3 linked regions of the Homo sapiens genome follow. The protein of the gene in region 2 purifies or fractionates together with the protein of the main gene of each other region. This does not show direct contact. Each region holds a gene or a part of one and is shown on either strand. Other genes may lie near its edges.

The links.
Region 1: the proteins of TOP2B (region 2) and CHAF1A fractionate together in Homo sapiens (co-fractionation; one large-scale study listed by BioGRID). This does not show direct contact.
Region 3: the proteins of TOP2B (region 2) and GLYR1 fractionate together in Homo sapiens (co-fractionation; one large-scale study listed by BioGRID). This does not show direct contact.

What each region holds. Positions count from the first base shown.
Region 1 is NC_000019.10:4,423,097-4,426,747, reverse strand, and holds part of CHAF1A (chromatin assembly factor 1 subunit A), read right to left. Parts: intron 3,414-3,651; coding exon 3,353-3,413; intron 2,943-3,352; coding exon 2,874-2,942; intron 1-2,873. UniProt on the Homo sapiens protein: Acts as a component of the histone chaperone complex chromatin assembly factor 1 (CAF-1), which assembles histone octamers onto DNA during replication and repair.
Region 2 is NC_000003.12:25,619,757-25,623,407, forward strand, and holds part of TOP2B (DNA topoisomerase 2-beta), read right to left. Parts: intron 1,061-3,651; coding exon 926-1,060; intron 307-925; coding exon 106-306; intron 1-105. UniProt on the Homo sapiens protein: Key decatenating enzyme that alters DNA topology by binding to two double-stranded DNA molecules, generating a double-stranded break in one of the strands, passing the intact strand through the broken strand, and religating the broken strand.
Region 3 is NC_000016.10:4,830,235-4,833,885, reverse strand, and holds part of GLYR1 (cytokine-like nuclear factor N-PAC), read left to right. Parts: intron 1-973; coding exon 974-1,112; intron 1,113-1,664; coding exon 1,665-1,907; intron 1,908-3,651. UniProt on the Homo sapiens protein: Cytokine-like nuclear factor with chromatin gene reader activity involved in chromatin modification and regulation of gene expression. Acts as a nucleosome-destabilizing factor that is recruited to genes during transcriptional activation.

The sequences.
Region 1 (3,651 bases), on a different chromosome or scaffold from region 2:
AATCCCAGCACTTTGGGAGGCCGAGGTAGGCGGATCACCTGAGGTCAGTAGTTCAAGACAAGCCTGACCAACATGGAAAAACCCCGTCTCTACTAAAAATACAAAATTAGCTGGGCGTGGCAGCACATGCCTGTAATCTCAGCTACTCGGGAGGCTGAGGCAAGAGAATCATTTGAACGCAGGAGGCAGAGGTTGTGGTGAGCTGAGATCATGCCACTGCACTCCAGCCTGGGCAATGAGCGAAACTTTGTCTCAAAACAAACAAACAAAAAACAACAAAGGCCGGGCACGGTGGCTCACACCTGTAATCCCAGCCCTTTGGGAGGCCGAGGCGGGCGGATCACAAGGTCAGGAGATCGAGACCATCCTGGCCAACACGGTGCAAACCCCGTCTCTACTAAAAATACAAAAAATTAGCGGGGCATGGTGGCGGGCGCTTGTAGTCCCAGCTACTCGGGAGGCTGAGGCAGGAGAATGGTGTGAACCCAGGAGGTGGAGCTTGCAGTGAGCCGAGATGGCACCACTGCACTCCAGCCTCAGCAACAGAGTGAAACTGTGTCTCAAAAAAAAAAAAAAAAAAGACTGTAAACAAAGAGGTAACAGGCTGAGACGAAATATCACGGAGAATGAAATACTAGACTATGTTAAAAAAAACTTACAGATCAGGCAAAGAAAAAAAAAGAAAATCCTGTAGAAAAATAGGTAAAAAAATAGGAATTGGCAAGTCATAGAAGAACTAAAATGGCAAACGAACAGAAAAAGATGCTCAACTGCACCAAGAGTCAAGTAAAAATGGAAAGTAAAACAATGTCAATTTTTAAAAATCCATCAGACTGGCAAAGTTAAAAGAAAATTAATCCCATAAAAATTGCAGTGATAGCAGAGAATGGGGAGGAAATTTCCACACATCGCCGGGAATGTACATCTGAGTTTCCCATCTGGCACGCACTCTGGCCATGGCTCATGATGCTTCAGCAATATGCTATTTTGTCCTAGAGGTGAACTCATGCTTACTTGGCTGTCCCAGAGGAATGCATGTGTGCAGAGAAGCATGTGCAGGGACCCCCCCTACACCACTGAGGGGCAAAGAGGTTGAGATAGTGGCAGGCTCTGTGGCTCATGCCTGTGATCCTAGCACGGTGGGTGGCCAAAGCGAGAGAAATGCTTGAGACCAGGAGGTCGAGACCAGCCCTGGCAACACAGTGAGACCCAGTCTCTACTAAAAATAAAATTAGGGAGGCTGAGATGGGCAGATCATCTGAGGTCAGGAGTTCAAGACCAGCCTGGCCAATATGGTGAAACCCCGTCTCTACTAAAAACACAAAAAATTAGCTGGGAGTGGTGGCAGGCACCTGTAATCCCAGCTACTCGGGAGGCTGAGGTAGAAGAATTGCTTGAACCCGGGAGACAAAGGTTAGAGTGAGCCGAGAGATAGCGCCACTGCTCTCCAGCATGGGTGACAGAGCAATACTCCGTCTCTAAATAAATAAATAATTTTTGTAAAAAAAGAGAGAAACCATATCATTGCATTATGAAGTATTATGCGGCAGTGAAAATACATGATGTGGATCTCTGGCTGTCACAATATGATGTGTAGGTACAACAATGTCACATTGTGCACCTTCAGGATACACAATTGCCATCAAATGTCTCAACATACAAATAAAAGGACAGGCCAGGTGCAGGGACTCACACCTGTAATCCAAGTGCTTTGAGAGGCCGAGGTTTGGAGGATCATTTGAAGCCAGGTCGTCGAGACCAGCCTGGGCAACATAGCAAAACCCAGTCTCTACAAAAAAAAATTAAAAAATTAGGCCGGGCACGGTGGCTCACGCCTATAATCCCGGCACTTCGGGAGGCTGAGGCGGGCGGATCACCTGAGGTCAGGAGTTCAAGACCAGCCTAGCCAACATGGTAAAACCCCGTCTATACTAAAAATACAAAAATTAGCCAGGTGTGGTAGCATGTGCCTGTAATCCCAGCTACCTGGGAGGCTGACACAGAAGAATCACTGGAACCCGGGAGGTGGACGTTGCAGTGAGCTGAGATCGCACCACTGTACTGCAGCCTGGGTGACAGAGTGAGACTCCATCTCAAAAAAAATAAAAATAAAAAATTAGCCAGGCATGGTGGCACATGCCTGTAGTCCCAGCTACTCGGGAAGGCTGAGGTGACAGGATCACCAGACCCTGAGAGGTCAAGGCTGTGGTGAGCTTTGATTGTGCAACTGCACTACAGCCTGGGTGACAGTGAGACCCTGCCTCAAAAAATAAATAAAGGCCAGATACATTAAAAAGAATGAAATACATCTAAATGTGGCAACATGGCACAAATCTGAGATAGCTAAGTACACATGTGTATAAATACAGTGAGTGGAGCAGGGAAAGGCACTGAAGGACCCCTAACATTGGAGATGGGCTCCCTCTGGGTAAAGGGGAAGGAGGGCTGTGGTTTCCATGCACAGATGGTGGCTCAGAAGGTCTGAGATGCCAGGTGACCGACGCCAGGCAGGGAAAGTAAACCTTTGTGAATTGTACTGTTGTTTTACAGCTAAACGTGCTCCCTCCTTAAGCCTAAGTTTCCCAAGGGTAAAAACATGGTGAATTTCTCTTACGCCTAACACAAAATTATTCATGAAGTAACCTCTGAAAACAGCACTGTTTAATCAGACATGCCACTTTTTACCTCTTTGGGACAAAGCGAAGGACAAAATATTGAGCCTCAAGACTTAACCAGAAATGGAAGTGCCCTAGGTCACTGGAGGCTCCCTCCCTCCTAATGAGAGAAGCTGGCTGGGGAGAGACCCTTTCACTTTCAGAAAGGAAAAGTCTAGCAGAGCTGAAACCCAAAAGCAAAGGCAGCCGGCTGCTCACCTTGGGGGCCTGTGGAGTCTTTGGTTTCTGGAAGAACCTCGTGATTTCGGCCTTCTCTGCTTTAATGCGCTGTGATGTTAAGAGATGGTGATGAGAAAGAGGAGAGGAAGAGGAACAGTATGTGTTGCAAAACATGCAAAGGCCCCCAGAACCGAACGTCAAGCATTTTAGCTTGAAGGCACTACTGTGATTTTCAGCTCTCAAAACCCACGGACCCGCAACTGAGCCAGCCAATCTCAAAATGTCCAAGTTGCCCTTGTGGGTAGAAGTGCCAGGATTGCAGGGCCAGTAGGCATGTGACAGCCAGCACTGGGAAGAAGCAACAAGAACGCATCTAGACAGACTCGCCCTCCCTGCGGGCGCCATTTGGTTTCCCCAAACCAAGAGAATATTAGGTGACGGCTGTGGCAAGAATTCCACTTTGGGCATCTGCTTCTCCAACGGGCTGGGACGGGGAAGCTCTGTGGGAAACACTCTACCTTCTCTTCTTCTCTTAACCGTTTCTCTTCTTCCTTTTTCCTTTTTTCCTCAAGTTTAGCCCTGTGAGACAGCAAATGACATTTCAGCCGACTCTTTGCTTTGGCTCTGGAAGGGACCGCAGCACTCAACTGTTAGTATATGGCAAGTATTTCATTTTACATTAAATGAATATAAGTTATTTTCATGTCTAGTATAAGGCTTTTACATAGGTCTTCACAATAAAAATGGAAAACAGTCAATAAAATTCTTCCTGTGACTAGAATATATATAAAAAACTTTAGCCAGTCAGAGCACAATT
Region 2 (3,651 bases):
ATGCCTTCAGGCTTACTATAGCCACTCCCATCATGAAACCAATTATAATAATCCGACTTATACCATGCAAGAAAGATTAAATTAACAGTAAATCTAATAAATTACCATGGAATTACAAGTAAGAGTAGTTTGAAGTTTAAAAACTTTATGCAGTCCAGCAGCTTCTGCTTGTGCTAGTTTCTCTTCAGTCATTTTCACCACAAATTTCACAGTTGTGTCAGTATGATATTCTTTATAATCAGAAATTAATGCTGGTGTTTTATCTGTTCCATTTAGCATAGGTTCTAAAACCTGTTCTTTATATACCTATAAAGATTTAAAAATTAGTGATTCTTTTCATGACACACTCTCATGTTCTCATACTACAAGTCATACAGTCTTGAAAATTCTCAACTCTCATGGGGAATTAAAAAGGAAACCTCAATCTCTATCATCTCCTATCCAATCAGTATAGAAGGCAATACACAGGGATCTCGGTGGTGGGAAAAGACATAAGAAGTAATGGTGCTGACCCACTCATACTCTAAAGGGCAAGATAAAGGCTGAGTATGAAAAGGATGACATCAACTGGAACTGTCAAGAGGTGACATGCATACTTTTAGATTTGTAAAGCTGATGCTGACATGAATTTACTGACCATATTTACAAGAATTAAAAACACTGTCATATTCTACTCCTTTTATTTTAAATAAATACAAAGATAATAGTCTATAAAAGCCTTACCTAACATAAGTCATACTACGCTACTTAGATATAAATACTATTTAAATATTCAAAGCACAAATTCAACTGAAGGGTAAAAGAAGGTACAGGAATTTTTTAACACTACGCACGCTTAGGACCAACAACGGTGGAATCATCCTTACCAGAAAAAATTGCTTAATACACTGCCCTTCCCTCAGGCAGATCACATATTTACACTGACCTGTGTCCAAGTTCTAACTGGAAGCTCTGTAATTTCTACTGTGTTTCTGTCCACTACAAATATTTCACCACTGACTGCATACTGGTTTTGACCAAGTTCTTGAATCGTGCCTTTAAAGTTTTTGTAGTTTGGAAGCTGTAGAGAAAAAGGTAAATAGCATTGACTTCTCTCTTGAGTACCAGTACCATGAGTCTATGGTCTAACATTGACAGATTAACACAACTGAAACAGAATTTCTCATCCTCAATTGTCCCTTTCCAACTGATCAATTAAGCTTGAATTCATAGCTTCTGTTCATACAACCTGAACATCCTCCAATCTCAAAATGTTAGTATCATCTTTCCTAGTCTTCCTAGAACAGTACTTTCTTTCAGCCTACTTCCCCTACACCTACTTCTCTCCTAGATCAATATCCTTTAAATTCAAACTCCTTGGGCCTTACATTGAAAGCATTTCATAGTCTGGACCCAATCTGGCTTTCAATTTTTTCTCTAATGATTTGTCTTACAAAACCACTACTCTTCTCCCATATTTTGTTTGACTATTTTGAATATTCTCACTTTCACTCTATCCACAAGTCCTGACACATATTCAGGCCCAACCCCATTCCATTCATCATTCATCTACATAAATCTTACTCATCCTTCCCAACTGAATTACAAGTCCTCTCTCCCTCTTCTAAGTTTTTATTTGTTTTGAGACAGGGTCTCCACTTTGTCACCCAGGCTGGAGTGCCGTGGCACGATATCAGCTCACTGCAGCCTCAACCACCTGGGCTCAAAGGATCCTCCCACCTCAGCCTCCCAAGTAGCTGGGGTTACAGATGCGTGCCACCATGTCCAGCTAATTTTTGTATTTTTGTAGAGACAGGGTTTTGCCATGTTGCCCAGGCTGGTCTTCAACTCCTGAGCTAGTGATCTGCCCAGCTCAGCCTCCCAAAGTGCTGGGATTATAGACATGAGTCACTGCACCTGGCCTACTCTAAAATTCTTATTCGTTATTATCATTAAGAAATCGAGTATATAGGCCGGGCACAGTGGCTCATGCCTGTAATCCCAGCACTTTGGGAGGCCAAAGCAGGCGGATCACTTGAGGCCAGGAGTTCGAGACCAGCCTGGCCAACACAGTGAAACCCCGTCTCTACTAAAAATACAAAAATTAGACAGGCATGGTGGCGCACACCTGTGGCCCCATCTACTCAGGAGGCTGAGACAGCAGAATCACTTGAACCTGGGAGACAGAGGTTGCAGTGACCCAAGATCACACCACTGTACTCCAGCCTGGGTGACAGAGTGAGACTCTGTCTCAGAAAAAAAAAAAAAGAAAGAAAGAAATTGAGCATATAGCATAGGACATTTCTTCTGGCATACCAAGCAACTATCAATATCGTTTGTCACTGTTAAACTTCAAGCCTTGATGCTTTGATGTCTTGTCTTGACAACTGTTTAACTTTTCAAAGATAAAAACCATAGCTCTTTATCTCACCACTTAGCACAGTTTCATACACATAGTAGGCACATAAGAACCATGTATTGATCAAATACACTATCTTAACAATCTAAAATCCATTTAAAAATCCAAAACCATTTCAGTAAAACACTATCATTAAAAATTTGATGCTTATGTTAGAAATATTTTGAAGTACTTTGAAGTATTTAAGAGAAAAAGCAGAATATATGTCTTATTGCTAAAGAATAACTTTCACTTTAAAATACAAAAATGAAATAAAACTTGGAAAAATACATCAAAATATTGTCTCTATATTGTGGGTTTATGGATTTTTTTACTCTTTGCTTACCTATATTTTCTACAATAAACATTATCATTTTGGTAATAAAAATACACTTTTCTCCAGGTAATTTTAAATCATGGGGAGGAAGGAAGGACATTTTTCTTGGAGGAGGTCTGAGCAGAGTGAATGATACAAGAAAACAACAAACATAAAAAAAAAATGGGGATTTTTTTTTTTTTTTTTGGGAGACGGAGTCTCATTCTGTTCCCCAAGCTGGAGTACAGTGGCGCAATCTCGGCTCACCGCAACCTCCACCTCCTGGGTTCAAGCGATTCTCCTGCCTCTGCCTCCCAAGTAGCTGGGATTACAGGTGCCCTCCAGCACACCCGGCTAATTTTTGTATTTTTAGTAGAGACAGGGTTCTACCTGGTTTGGTCAGGCTGGCCTAGAACTCCTGACCTCAGGTGATCCACCCACCTCGGCCTCCAAAGTGCTGGGATTACAGGCGTGAGCCTGAGCAACACCTAATTTTTTTTGTATATTTAGTAGAGATGGAGTTTCCCCATGTTGGTCAGTCTGGTCTCGAACTCCTGACCTCAGGTGATCCATATGCCTTGGCCTCCCAAAGTGCTGGAATTACAGGTGTGAGCCACCACGCCCAGCCTTGGGGATATATTAAAATATATACAAGGTAGTTTGTTTTCTGTCTTTTTACAAATGGTACACTAATGAATACAATGTGTTTTTAAGCATCCTTACAAACTATTAAGCGGTAGTTTGAGAACAGAAACAAGGTTACACATAATTTTATCAGAAAAGGATTGTTTTCTAATAATATAGGGTTTAGAGGTTTGAAAACCTGGAATATGAGGTGTTTCTAAATTTAAATAAACAGTTTCTCCCCATGAAACTTACCTCCAAAACTCATTCCAAAGTTTATACTTTTTACTGTAGGCACATATCAAATTATACCCTAATTAGGTCTTTACGGTCT
Region 3 (3,651 bases), on a different chromosome or scaffold from region 2:
CTATAAAATTATTTTGTGCTTGGATTCTATAAGCTGCATGCCATTCAGGGAAGCCATAGAAAGCCAGCTGCAGCAGATTTGTTCAGGTTAGTGTGACAGATCAGAAACCCCAGAATTGACAGCTGACTACTTTCACTTTCATGTGTTACACATTGATGGTTGAAATTAAAAATTACATATCGGAGGTGTATGTTCTTCTACCTTTAATCTCAAGCATCTTGTTTCTATTTTTTTTTTTTTTTGAGACATCATAAAACAGCATGCCATCTTGTTTTTAAATGCCTCCTTTTGTAACTGCTGCCCTTATTCCAAACCATGTGTTCCGTGTTTTGTGTGGTTTAGTAGCCATGGTTACCATCATTTATGAACAAATATAGGCTCAGTGGCTGTGAATATCCATAGGAACCACAAATTTTAGAAGATGTTGCATTTCTTCAGCTCTGTAACATCCCTGACTCTCTGTGGATCAACAGATCATAAATCTGGTTCCCATTGTTGACAGGCAGCAGGCATTTTCCTGCATAGTAATGCTGCTATCATCTATCACATTTCCAGGTACCCTGATTCCCAGGGATCTGTGTGTGGCCATTTGTGCTGCCTGGTGAGAATGGGAAAGGGTCTCCAGATTTCTTTCTGCCCTGAGCAAGTGGCAGCGTATATGTGGTTGGGCATTGGAGGCTGATAGACGATTGTGGAAATAAATAATCTGCAACACAGTGCTTTCACTGGAGGAACTTGATTTGTGGTTGCTGCAGTGGTGGTGATGGTTGTTCTGCTTGACTTGTTTCAAGAAAATATACTTTAGACATAAGACTCTGAGATGGTTGATAGCATGTTTTGAAAGAAATGGCAAGGCCTATTGCAAAGTCCAGTTAAACCAAATGGATATTTACACCGTGCCATAGTGAGGTTGTTGATACTTTAGGGCATATGCTATATGGTTCACACCCTTTTTGTGTTTGTTTTCTGCTAGTGCCTGGATCAAAGTGGAACAGCTGAAGCCATATCATGCTCATAAAGAGGAAATGATAAAAATTAACAAGGGTAAACGATTCCAGCAAGCGGTAGATGCTGTCGAAGAGTTCCTCAGGAGAGCCAAAGGGAAAGACCAGGTGAGAGACACAATGTTCACTTTCTACCAATGCCAGACTGGTGATTTTTGCATAGCAACTAACAGATTAAATGTCACCCAAACGCAAACCTTTGTTCTTCTGAAATGCTACTGGAGAAAGCTACTTCAGTTCTAAGGTGTCAGCGTTTTGCTTATCAGTTTGAAACTCCATGCAGCTAACCTTTCTGGAGTAGGTTGTTGCTTTTAGGAAAATTGCTTGGACCCAGGAGAAATATCTCAGCATTTGAGTCTAGCACAGGCCATTTCTTCCTTTCATAGCACACAGATTAGGAGCATAGCCTCTGAAATACATATACTGCCTAGATTTAAATCCTTTCTTCTAGTTTTGGGACATAGGGAAAGTGACTTTTGATATATATATTTTTTAAATCTGCTTCTCCCAATGTCTGGGACGACAGCAGAATCTATTTCTAGGGTCATTGTGAGGAGACCACACAGAGTGCCTGTAGCAGCACATGGCACCTGTAAATGATGGTGGCGATGGCGGCAGCAGCTGTGGTGGTAGTTATCATTATTATTATTAAACTTTCAGACGTCATCCCACAATTCTTCTGATGACAAGAATCGACGTAATTCCAGTGAGGAGAGAAGTAGGCCAAACTCAGGTGATGAGAAGCGCAAACTTAGCCTGTCTGAAGGGAAGGTGAAGAAGAACATGGGAGAAGGAAAGAAGAGGGTGTCTTCAGGCTCTTCAGAGAGAGGCTCCAAATCCCCTCTGAAAAGAGCCCAAGAGCAAAGTCCCCGGAAGCGGGGTCGGCCCCCAAAGGATGAGAAGGTTTGTTTTCTCTCTGCAGCTTCCGGGATTAGTGATGTCCTTTTAGTACAAGGTAGAGTTAAGCTCTACAGTATGCTTATGTAGTATGCTTATCTATACTCTGCTCATGGAGTGGGAGCAGAATTCTGTGCTCAAGAATCCTGCAGGGCAGGTGCGGTGGCTCATGCTTTATCCCAGCAACTCAGGAGGCTGAGTCAGGAAGATGGCTTGAGCCTTGGAGCTCAAAGTTGCATTGAGCCGATTGCACCACTGCATTCTAGCCTGGGTGATGGAGTGAGACCCCGAATCTTATTTAAAAAATTAAAAAATAAAGAATCCCATAGACCAGGTGAGAGACACGGCCTGGATGCAGGTGTAAAGTAGGAGCGCGAGGCAGGAGAGCAGTCCACTTGAGCCGGTGCACAAGGGCTGGCCCTGGGAGGGGCTTAGCAAGAAAGAAGGGTAGGCATTCCAAAGATGGAGGGCACAGCCCGTGTGAGGCTCGGTGCTGGTGGAGATACTCTCGAACAGGGAGAGGATAGTGAGGAAAGCCGAGAAAAAGGAAGCTTGTCCCTGGATCGTGGAGGGCCTGAAGGTCTACTGAAGCAGCGTGGTACTAAAGCGTCTTGGAGTCAGTGGGGGCCCGGGAAGGTGACTGAGCCAGTGGCAGTGTGTGCCTCCCGTGTGTGCACCAGTAGTCACCGAGTGCAGAGGGGAAAGTCTCAGAGCCAATTAGGAGGTAAGTCTAGGCGTGCATTCATAAGGGGGTAATTGCAAATGTTGCAAGCAAAGAGGTGAGAGGCACTTCAGAGGAAGAGTTCTTAAGATTCCATAATTGGTTATATAGAGGATGAATGAGAAAAAGGAAAAGAGGATTTCCATCTTCATTCCTGGGAAAGTGGTCATCACTTTCTTAAAAGTAGAGGACTGGGGATGTAGAGGTGGCTTGTGGAGAAAGAGTACCAGTTCTGTTTGGAATGTCAAGAACTTGAGGCAAGGCCTAGACAGCCTGGGAGCTTGGTGTGACCTCAGGACTAGAAATGTAGATTTGGGAGGTGAATTTGTAAAAGGGTAGTTGAGTCCGGGCAGTGGAATGGGTTTGTTTCAGGAAGAGAGGGAGAAGAGGGAAGCGCGGAGGCCTGCATTGCCACAAGAATGCCGTGCTTGGGGCAGGAAGGAGCAGGAGGAGCTAGCAAGATGAGATAAAGCAGTGAGAGTGCCTCTCTCGCCTTCTTGCTGACAAGATTTGGGGCCGGTCTTACAAGGCCACAGAGAAGAATTTCAAAGTGAAGGGGACTGTGTCAGGAACGCGGTAGGATTGTCAACAGCAGGATAAAGAGAACAGAAGCCAGATGGCTGGCAGCAACAGTTGGGTGACGAGGCCATGATGGAACATTAGACCTTGGATCAAGGCTCAAAAATTCAGACACCAGCGAGCCCAGGCAGGTAATGGAAGCAACTGTAGCTGACTGGACCTAAGAAGCAGTGGCACGGGTGCCAGGCACCCCAGCTGACCTGCCTTGGTGCTCAGAGCAGCAGGGCTGGCCATGGTCAGGGAGTCTGGGGAGGTCATGCTCTGTCCACAGGGTTCTAGCCAGCTTCTGCCAAATTGTCTGTTTTTTCTCAAGAGAAGCTGGGAAGGCCAGTTGTGGTGTCTCATACCTGCAATCATAGCACTTTGGGAGGCTGAGGCAGGAAGATCACATGAGCCCAGGAGTTCAAGACCAGGCTGAGAAGCATAGTAAGAGCCTTTCCCTTAAAAAAA